2 separate regions of the Homo sapiens genome follow, and region 1 is linked to region 2. Evidence: fine-mapped expression QTL. A gene starts in region 2. The other region holds a variant in brackets. All regions are shown on one strand. Distances are between the middles of the regions.

Region 1 (5,377 bases), 29 kb before region 2:
AATGATTAATTTTTATGTAGTCCAATTTATCTATTTGTACTTTTGTTGCCTGTGCTTTTGGTGTCAGGTGCAAGAAATCATGGCCAAATCCAGTGTCATGAAGCTTTTCTCCGATGTTGTCTTCTAAGAGTTTTATAGTTTTAGCTCTTCAGTTTAAGTTTTTAATCCATTTTGAGTTAATTTTTGTATATGGTGTTACCTACGGGTCCAACTTTATTCTTTCGCATGGGGATATCTGGTTTTCCCAACACCATTTGTTGAAAAGACTGTCCTTTCCCCATTTACTGGTCTTGGCAGCCTTGTTGAAAATCATTTGACCACATATGGATAATTTATTTCTAGGCTTTCTATTCTGTTCCATTGGTCTATATGTCCCTTTATGCCAGTATCACACTATTTTGATTACTATATCTTTGTAATACATTTTGATACTGGGAAGTGTGAAACCTCTGAAGTTGTTCTTTTTAAGATTGTTTTGGCTATTCTGGGTCCCTTGAGATTCCACATGAGTCTTAGGATGGATTTTTTTCTGCTTAAGCAAAAACATTGGGATTTTGATAGGGATTGCATTAAATTTGTAGATCACTTTAGGTAGTATTGACATCAAAGTTCCCATTTTTGGTGATACAGGATCACTCTTGATTTCAGAATTTTTTATCCATAGTTGACGAAAAGAGATAAGGAAAACAGCCATATGTAATGAGTTTCCAGAGATGTGAATATCAAAATATCAAAGAACATTCACTCTGTGTCCTCAGTTCAGGAGTCAGGCTTCTAGTTTCCTTTCTAGAACTCATTCATCTTTTTTACCCCAGCCTGCCTTCCTTGTAACAGAACTGGATATGAACATTCCTGTAAGAGCGCTTACCAAGTTTTCACTAATTGACAGAAATTCAAAATGTGAAACATTTTAAGTACCCATGCTACTTTTTGTTCCAGAGAAAAATGACATTTAAGATGATAAGTGTCAAACAACATGCCCACTCTAAATGTAAACTCTGTCCCTTGCTTTCTACAACAGTAGGCCTTTAACTACCCCCAAGGAACTTCACATTTTCCATTTCACATTTGATTTTTATTTCTTCCTTTCAGGTTTGAAAATCTGAATCTCCTTGACAAAGCTAACTTTTAAATGTATCATTATGAGACAGCCTAATTATTTTTTAGATCCTTCATGGTCATTTATTTTTCTTAAGGGCCATTCATTTACCTGTTTCATTCACTTAGATGGAACACCCAGCATGATTTTCAAAGTCATTTTGAAATAATGGAAACCCTGCCCAGTCCTTTAAAGGAAAGAGCTTACTTTAATAGATTTTGAGGGGTATCCTAGCAACCAGTCCACAGTGAAATTTATCAATTTCTTAAAGGGAATCTGCACTAAATCCATGAAAAAGACATTTCAATTTTGGTTTCTTAGGTCCATCTTTTCTACATTGTTCCAGGGATTGGACTTGATTGGATATCTTCACTTTTGAGACTTCATTTAATGACCATTAAAAACATAGTTGATGTTCTTCCACTCAGCGTAGCTCCTTTCATGGCATTGGACTCTACCTGAAAATAGAAAGATGGATACATAGAGAAATATTTCTAAGTTGTATAAGCAGCCCAAAACTTAGTGCAAAAATCGAATATATATTTGTGCTTTTTGTTCTTATTTCTGTACATGCAAAAATACAAGGCAAAATCTTCTTGATCCCAAGAAAAGCCAGGGCTTGGAAAGCATATTCATTCATGCCAATCTTGGCTTTCCTGGGTGCTGTGAATGAGAGAAGATTTATTTGGTCGTGCTTTCAGATATTAGTCGTTTCCAAGTTGCGAATTTTTTTTTTTTGATTCTGAACCCAAATCAAAATAAAAATTTTCCCCAGATATGTAGACAAGTCAAGCATGAAATAGCATAAATGGAGTACACATTCTGCAAGTAGGATTTAAAATTGAGAAGGCTATTAAAATTAAATAGCATTAACAATTCAACTCTAGATAACCCGGGAATAATGCCTGCATAGGAAATTCATATGGGTGAGCGAGACTTATTCTCAGTCTTTTTGCTATCTTGAAAAGCAAAATGAAATTGTTCTGTGCATTGGTCTTTGGGATTTAGAATTCATGCAATGTTTACAATACATTCATTTAGTGTTTGACTAGATAGAAGTGGACATTTGTTTAAGGACATGCAGGTATAAAAAGTATACACTTGTTTTAATTAGTACTATGATAATTTAATTATAGGGAGAGAATTTTCATAATTCAGCTGGCTGACTAATGTTTCCTTGATATGTGCTGGTGAACAAATGAATAAGCATTTAGTAGCTCATATTTACACTGATAGCCTATTTCTGGCACAATACCCATTAACAGAGTTTGAATTTATGTAGAATATTTTGCCTTTTAAAATATTAGGTATTTGGCCAGGTGCGGTGGCTCACACCTGTAATCCCAGCACTCTGGGTGGCCGAGGCAGGTGGATCATTTGAGGTCAGGAGTTTGAGACCAGCCTGACTAACATGGTGAAACCCCATCTCTACTAAAAATGCAAAAAAAAAAATTACCCAGGCATGGTTGCTCATGCCTGTAGTCCCAGCTACTCAGGAGGCTGAGGCAAGAAAATTGGTTAAACCTGGGAGACAGAGGTTGCAGAGAGCCGAGATCACACCACTGTACCCCAGCCTGGGTGACCTCCGTCTCAAAAAAAAAAAAAAA[G/AG]AAAGAAAAAATAGGTATTTAATAAAGATTTGTTTATTTCACCATACTAATTATTCTTTACAGTATTTTTATTTAAATGTACTCTGAATTATTTAAAATTTTATTCTTTCAGTTATTCTTTGAGCTCTTTTAATATTACTTTTGCTTTTTTCATCATGTTTGCTTATTTTTTATTTGTTGCATCTATTATTAGCTAGTTGGTTTGAAAGATTATTGTTCTTAAACGATTGATCCTTAGCTCATTGAATCCTGCTTTATTTGTTTTCCTTTATCTTTGGTTTCCTGAAAGGAGTCAGGTTATTATTAGTTTTTGTTGGCAACAAGGAAGTCTGAGACAGGGTGACAGCAGCAGCAAGGACCCACACCAGGGAGGTGGAAACTGTTGGAACCCATCCACTTCCCTGGTGTGGTCCTCCTTTGACTTCTCTCATCCCCAAGGCCGTCAGTGTTGATTCTCCAAATAATCTTAGCCAGCACCATTTAAGCATCCCCCACAGGCTAAGAAGGCTTTACAAGCCAAAATTGTCTTATTTATTCAAACAGCACGCTTGGATTCCCATCACCTTAGGCAGTCCTCAATTCACAACTCTCAGAACAGCAATTATTGACTGAATAGCTGTATGCTGACTTTATGCCCCATATTTGCTGTAAGTTGGTTGTTTGGAACTCAGGAAGCATTTTCCAGAAACATTCCCATTCTTGTGTCTGGGTTCCTAGGTCAGTTGGCAAAAGCCCAGGGAATCTGAACCAGTCTGACTCTTCCCCTTTTTTCTTTTATATATATATATAAATCCTAGCATACCGAAGTCTTTTCTGTATATATTTACAACAATCCCAAGGAATTAGCTTTTTATTGAGTAAGTTTTAAGTCACTCTTTCCAGGGTTAAATGAGGTAATGGGAGAAATAGACAGGGATGGCAAAAATGAGCGCAGAATGTGAGCTGCAGTCTCAGATGGCTGTTCCTGGAGCACATGTGACAACTGGAGAATAATTCCAGCACAGAGGACTGAGGACAGCGGAGGCAGAGATAAGCACAAACACTCGCTGGGTGAAACTGTCGAATATGTGGGGCACTTGGGATGGGAGTACAGTCACAGAGACCAATGCATTTTGGTCTGTGTTTTATCTTCAACAATGCTAAACAGATTTATGAGCACCTTACTAAAATGGCCTATGTGGGAGATCCTCAAGAGATTCCAGAGAGCAAGAGATGTCAAATGGAAATTCATGGTATAGAACTTATCATTACTAATGGTTTTACTCTCAATCTTGATGACCTCCAAACAGTTTTTCCTTAAGATCTTAAATTTCTCAATCTGCAGCTCTCTACAGCCACCATGGTGGCAGGCATTCAGCCACTGAACTGGAGAACTGAATACTGAAAGCAGCCAAGACTAGCACAGTGGTGTTGTAGTACCCTTAATTAAAAGAGAAGAACATTAAACTACATTAAAAACAAAATAGTGGGGTTTTTTTTGTTGTTCTGTTTTTTGTTTTCTTGAATGCTGGTGATTAAGGAAAGGAAAGTCTAATTAGAGCAGGATAGGGAGATTTGGAATGGGACTTGTGGCTGCTTTCAAGTGCTTTGAAAGTTGGTGGCATTGATTCCTTTTGAACTTTTTTCTTTTCAATGTTTTTATGTGTATGTCTGGATCATTGCCCTCCAGCCCTCCTGCTCTTCCCTCACCACACACACAATCTTTTAGTTTGGCTCACAAATGAAACAAAAATCGAACAATAAATGAAAAATAAGAAAGGTGGATTCCTGAGATAAACTATCAGAAAGGAAGAAAGTGAAAGGGATCAAAGGCATATTATTGAGGGGGAAGATTTCTCAAAGCAGAACTGAGAGAATAAGGAGACAGACAGAAAAGGAGATGAGAGCAAGAGAGAGAAGAAAGCTAGGGACAAAGGGAAAGAGTAAGGCAGGGAGAAAAAGAGGGAGAGAGAGGAGCAGAAATAGGAGCGCAGGAGATTCAGTGAGGATCTGATGTTGGCAATTTCAGATGGGGCAGAGAAACTTTTGATCCTTCAGTTCTTTTAGCTAGTGCTGTGGACCTACACGTGTTTGGTTTAGATCAAAGAAACCTGGAATCAGAACAGCTTAAGGACTTCGTTCTTAACTCTGGCTTCACATTAGATCCACCCAGGGAGTTTTAAAAGCCGCCTAGACCTGCCTCCCCTCCCAGAAACAGGGACAGATTGATCTGGGCTGGGACATCATATTTTTTAAAGTTCACTGGGTAGTTCTAATGCCTAGTCACGGTTGAGACCCTAGGCAGGTCTGGAGACATTGGGGCAGTATGAAACTGGCATTGTGTGCTTGTGGGATGCTGTTTGTAAGCTAGTTGTCACCCTGAGGAGCTTGTCTACATCTAAGTACTTTTAAAATACTAGCTCATCTAGCAAAAGAGGACCCACGGGGTGCTCTCCTGTGCTGAACTCTTTCTAAGGAGTATGGACTCCACAAAAGCCATGGATAACCTGAAAAAATATAGCATCTATGATAATTATCAAATAGGTTCTTCCAACCATATTATTCTTACATTATGAATTCTTTCCTTCTTTTTTTTTTCTGGACACAGAGTCTCGCTCTGTTGGCCAGGCTCCCAGGCTAGAGTGCAGTGGCGTGAACACGGCTCACTGCAGCCTCAAATACCCAGGCTCAA
Region 2 (5,337 bases):
CCTGCCTACTTCCCCTTCACTTTCTGCTATGATTGTAAGTTTCCTGAGGCCTCCCCAGAAACTGATCCCACCATGCTTCCTGTACAGCCTGCAGAACCATGAGCCAATTAAACATTTTTTCTTTATAAATTACCCAGTCTCAGGTTCTTTACAGCAATGCAAGAACAGACTAATACAATGGTTTACAAAGTAAGTTGACGAAGCTGAAAAATAAGTTCAAGAAGTCCTATGAAATAATTAAGATGAGTAAGATTGCAAAGACATAATTCATTACAGTGAAGATTCTCATGGCCAATTCATTCTTGGTTATGGCTTCCAACTTCTACTTTAACAGACAAATGCATTCACTTACCCATAGGTTCAACCAACCGTCTGTCCAACACATACTTAGTAAATAGAGACACACTACATGCTAGGTACTGTTCTAGGTGCTGAGATAAAGCAGAATGAAGGTTTTGAGGTTGTAATAATCTAATAAACAAATGAAAAAAGCAAGTTGATTTCAGATGCTGATAGGTGTTGTGAATGAAATATACTGAAAGGATATAGCATTTATAGTAGAAAGGCTATCTGAAATAGGGTAATTAGGGAAGATCTTTCTTAACAGAGGGCATTGGAGTTGAGACCTGAATGAGAAAGAGCTAGCTCTTTCCAAAGCAGAAAAAAGAACTCCCAGGCATGGAAAGTTCTAACAATTCAAAGGTACAAGATCAAAAAGAAGGCAGATGGCTGAGTCCAGAGTGGTGGTATGAGGCAAGGTCAGAAAGATGGATAGGATCCTGTACTACTAAAAGGAGCTTGATTGAAGGAGTCTGAATTATAATCTAAGTATAATGGAATCATTTCAGGTTCTAAGCAGGAGGTAATATGATTTGAGACAGCTTTAAAAACATTAATCCAGATGCTTGTTCAAGAATTACTTATAGGCTGGTTGCGGTGGCTCAAGCCTGTAATCCCAGCACTTTGGGAGGCCTAGGCAGGAAGACTGGCCCCAGGAGTTCGAGACGAGCCTGGGCAATATAGTGAGACCTCATCTCTACAAAAGTAAAAAAAATAAACAAATAAATTAATAAAATAATATAAAATTTGCCAGGTATAGTGGTGGGCACCCATAGTCCCAGCTACTCTGGAAGCTGAGGTGATGGAATCACTTGAGTCCATGAGGTTGCAGTGCGCCATGATTGCACCACCGCACTCCAGCCTGGGTGACAGAGTGAGATCCTGACTCAGAAAACAAAACAGCAACAACAACAACAATAGCAAAAACAGAAAAGAATTACTTATAAAGGGGCAAGAGTGGGAGGGGAGGGACTAGTTAGGGTGCAAATGCAGAGACTGAAGATAAAAAGACTCTAAAGACTCATAACAAATCTCTTTAATGGTTAAAGAGAGTTCATTGGGGGAAAGAAAGCTGAATTTATTTTAATAATGTCCCCATTTTCGGTAACATATATGCTACAAAGTCAATTATTTTATTGTTATTTGGTCACAGGTAGAGATAACGGTGTGGCTGTGGATTAGCAATTACATACACCTCCGTTGCACATTTAAAAAGGCATTTTGTTGTTGCTGCAAGAAACCACTATGCAGGGCTTTTGGTCCTCCCTAAAGGAGAGAAACGGTATCTAGGAAATTAATTCTTCTCTCAGGCCCAAATGCAAAATTGCAGAAACCACTTGCTAAATATGGTCAGCCATTTTTAAGAGTCCAGAGAGTCTTTTCTCAGGCGTACTTTATTAGAGGCCATTGATCAGTTTCTACCGATTATTATAGTTAATTGAAGGGAAATCTGCGACTATGGCTATTTATTGGCATTTGCGTTCGGCTCAGACAGAAGCTAGTTTTGAAAGTGGTATCCGTAGAGTTATCCCGCTTGCACACTTCCTTGCCTAGGGGTGGTGGGGGAGCGCTGAGGGCTTGCGGGGTGTCAGCCACCAGGGCTTTCTGCTCATCAGTCAGCATCGTCAGACATCCTGGAAGTGTTATGATGGCGCTGAATGTAGAAAAAGGGTTCTCAGGGCGGATATATTGTCGTCATTCCTGGTGGCAGAGGGGAGTGACAAGAGGCTCACACGTCGCTGGGTAGTAGCACGCATAATAAAGTGTGGTTTGCACCATGTGTGCCACAGATTTCTCGGGTTTTCTGGAAGGCTTTTCCAAGTTCCGCCTTCTCCCCTTTAAAGCCATCCTGGCCCCAGCTATGCATCGGCCTTTGACTCCATCTGTCCTTCCGCTGCGGACGGGAGTCCCTCTCGCCAAATGGAGAACACAAGTTTGGCACCCCAAAGTGATGATAACCTCTACCCTCTTGGCTCAGCGCGAGCCAAGAGTCAGGCCTGCAGAGGGACGGTCAAGCGGATGGAGGGGGAGGCCGCGGAGAGGCCGCTCCTCTCACCTCCCCGCACCCATCATCACTTGGCACTTGGCCAAGCCCAGGCAGACGCCCCGCCTGCGCGTCCCCCACCCGCCCCGCGGTGCACGTCTCCCAGTGCTTTTGCATTTGCTCCTCTTCCGCCCTGCTGCAGAGCGCGGCTCGCAGGTTGGAGTTTGCCCTCGTGTGCGCCGCATCACACGGCAGGGAGGGGAAGGCAGGCGGCGGAGGCTGGGTCGGAGCAGGAGTCGCGCGGTCCCTGGCGCCCGGAGACACAGTGGGGAACCACCGCCCCGCCCCCGGAGCAGCGGACAGGGCCGCAGACCTCCCTTCCCCCCTCCCTCTCTCCCTCCTCCCCAGCGCCCTGACTCCCTGCCTCCACGCCCTTACTCCACCCCCTACTCCGGCCAGATCCCCATCCTCTCCTTGTGTGTGCGCGCTTCATATAATCTCCTCCTTTTTGGCAAAAGAAATAATGCACCTGACTTTACCAGGGGGGAACAACCAGCCGAGTAGAACAAGGAACAGATGTAAAGGGAATAAAAGGAGAGAGAAAAAGAGATGAGATTCGTTTAAAGAAATCCAGGGGCAGAAGAGGTGGCTGCCGCGGCAGAGGCAGCTAGAGCTTACTTCCCTGTCTGCGTGAGCTGCAGGCAGAGGACGCTTTCACCAGTTGCAGATGTAACCTCGGGAATTCCTGGGCCGTCGGTTTGTTTGCCAAACAAAGTCTTTTCTTCTCTGGCTCAGACACTGAAGAGGCTCCTGGATTTTTCTGCGATCCTGCCACAAGCTGGCAGTTACCCGAGAGCCTTCCCAAGGAGCTGGAGGAGAAATGAGCCCTTGTGGGCGGAAGATGGGCGAAGGGCGTCAGCAGCGGCGGGCTCCGGTCGGGAAGCTCCTTCTGCTCCCCGGGAGGAGAGATACACCCCATGGGCGGTCAGGCAGCAGCGGCGCCAGGACGCAGCGCTCCCTGCTCTGGCTCTTGGTGCACGTGTGGCTGTGGGCGGCCTCGGGCTCCTCTGCCCAGTTGTTCAACCTCACCCTTTCCGTAGATGAGGGGCTTCCCCCGGACACGCTGGTAGGTGACATCCGCGCCGGGCTGCCGGCCGCGCAGCAGCAGGAGGGGAGCGGCTTCTTTCTGTCGGAGGACTCCGATGACTCCCCGCTGCTGGACGACTTCCACGTGCACCCGGACACCGGCATCATCCGCACTGCGCGGCGCCTGGACCGCGAGCGGCGGGACCACTACAGCTTCGTCGCCGCCACGCTGCTGGGCGCTGTGGTGCAGGTGGAGATTCGCGTCAACGACGTGAATGACCACTCGCCCCGCTTTCCCCTCGACTCCCTGCAACTCGACGTCTCCGAGCTCAGCCCGCCAGGGACCGCCTTCCGCCTGCCAGTTGCCCACGATCCGGACGCCGGACTGTTCAGCACTCAGGGCTACACCCTGGTGCAACCGTCCGACCTGCCCAAGGACCCCGCAGGCCCGTTCTTCCAGTTGCGCTACCGGACTCCGGGGCCACTACCGTCACCGCTTTTGCCAGGCTCCTCGTCACCCCTGGAGCCTCTAGATCTGGTGCTGCTGCGGCGCTTGGACCGAGAGGAGGCGGCGGCGCACCGGCTGCAGATCGAGGCATGGGACGGCGGCCGACCCCGGCGCACCGGCCTCCTGAGCGTGGAGCTGCGCGTGCTGGATGAGAACGACAACCCGCCGGTCTTTGAGCAGGACGAGTACCGCGCCGCGGTGCGCGAGGACGCCCAGCCGGGCGCCGAGGTCTGTCGCGTGCGCGCCACCGACCGCGACCTGGGGCCCAATGGCTTCGTGCGCTACAGCGTCCGCGCCCGGCAAGTGCCTGGGGCGGGTAGCGGCGGCGGGGCACTGGGCGACGCGGCCTACTTCGCGGTGGAGGAGCTGAGCGGCGTGGTGCGAGTGTGGAGACCTCTGGACCGCGAGGCACAGGCCTGGCACCAGTTGGTGGTGGAGGCCCGCGATGGAGGCGCCGAGCCTGAGGTTGCCACGGTGCGCGTGTCCATCGCCGTGCTGGACGTGAATGACAACCGGCCAGCAATTCACGTGCTCTTTCTCACAGAGGGAGGCGTCGCCCGTGTCTCTGAAGGCGCCCGACCGGGCGACTACGTGGCTCGCGTCTCGGTGTCTGACGCGGACGGTGACTGGGAGAAGGAAGATGAGGCCACAGGGGAGCTTGGTGTGGGTCTTGGAGACGGGAGCATCTCTCTGTCCTTGGAAGGCGGAGAGGGAGACTTCGCGTTGCTACCCGGCGGCCCCCCAGGGGTATTTTTCCTTTGCGTGGAGGGGCCCCTGGACAGAGAGAGCCGCGATCTGTATGAGTTACTACTGGTGGCCACGGACGCGGGGTCCCCGCCGCTGAGCACGGAGGAGACGCTGCTACTCCGGGTCGCTGACCTCAATGACCAACCACCTCTCTTCAGCCAACAGCATTACAAGGCCTCAGTGTCCGAGGCCGCGGCCCCTGGCACTGTAGTCATGTGGGTCAGCGCCTCCGATGCCGACGAGGCAGGCAGTGATCACGCCTGGCTGCGCTACACTGTAGTCCAACTCTCGGCTCCCTGCAATCTCGGCTCCCTGCAATCAAAGATGGTCCACACCGCAGAGTGTGGACCATCTTTTGCCATTGATTCCGAAAGCGGTGCGATCAGCACTATCCGGACTCTAGACCGAGAGGTCCAGGAGGCGGTGGAGCTGAAAGTGGTGGCCCAGGACCTCGGAGAGCCCCCACTCTCTGCCACCTGCCTGGTGAGCATCACCGTAGATGATGTGAATGACAATGAGCCCATCTTCTGGAGGCAGGTGTACAATGCCACCATTGCAGAGCATGCCCCGGTTGGACACTGCTTTCTGCAGGTGAGTGCATCAGGCCTGTGGGCCAACCTGAAGGCTTGGGAAGGGATGGAGAGGGTTGTGAGTTGGCCTAGGAAATTGTGAT

Alleles and levels. Positions count from the first base shown, and alleles are read on the strand shown. Sizes are in standard deviations (SD) of each study's normalised expression.
For the expression in prefrontal cortex of the gene that starts at base 2,760 in region 2, allele AG in region 1 goes with a lower level than allele G (moderate effect, 0.44 SD a copy in ROSMAP).

The links. PIP is the estimated chance that this variant, and not a neighbour inherited with it, causes the effect. A credible set is the group of variants that fine-mapping cannot tell apart.
Region 1: its variant is the best candidate, but not a certain one, in a credible set for the expression of DCHS2 in prefrontal cortex (ROSMAP, PIP 0.51).

What each region holds. Positions count from the first base shown.
Region 1 is chr4:154,517,748-154,523,124 of GRCh38, reverse strand. No RefSeq gene overlaps it. Among named protein-coding and RNA genes, the nearest start is that of DCHS2, 29 kb to the right of the region's middle. The variant G/AG (reference allele first, on the strand shown) is at 2,707.
Region 2 is chr4:154,489,222-154,494,558 of GRCh38, reverse strand. DCHS2 (dachsous cadherin-related 2) reads left to right here and starts at 2,760. Exons shown (of 20, transcript NM_001358235.2): 1 at 2,760-5,255. The coding sequence starts at 3,204. RefSeq lists enhancers at 2,330-2,379, 3,182-3,361, 3,412-3,551, 3,020-3,975, 3,976-4,932.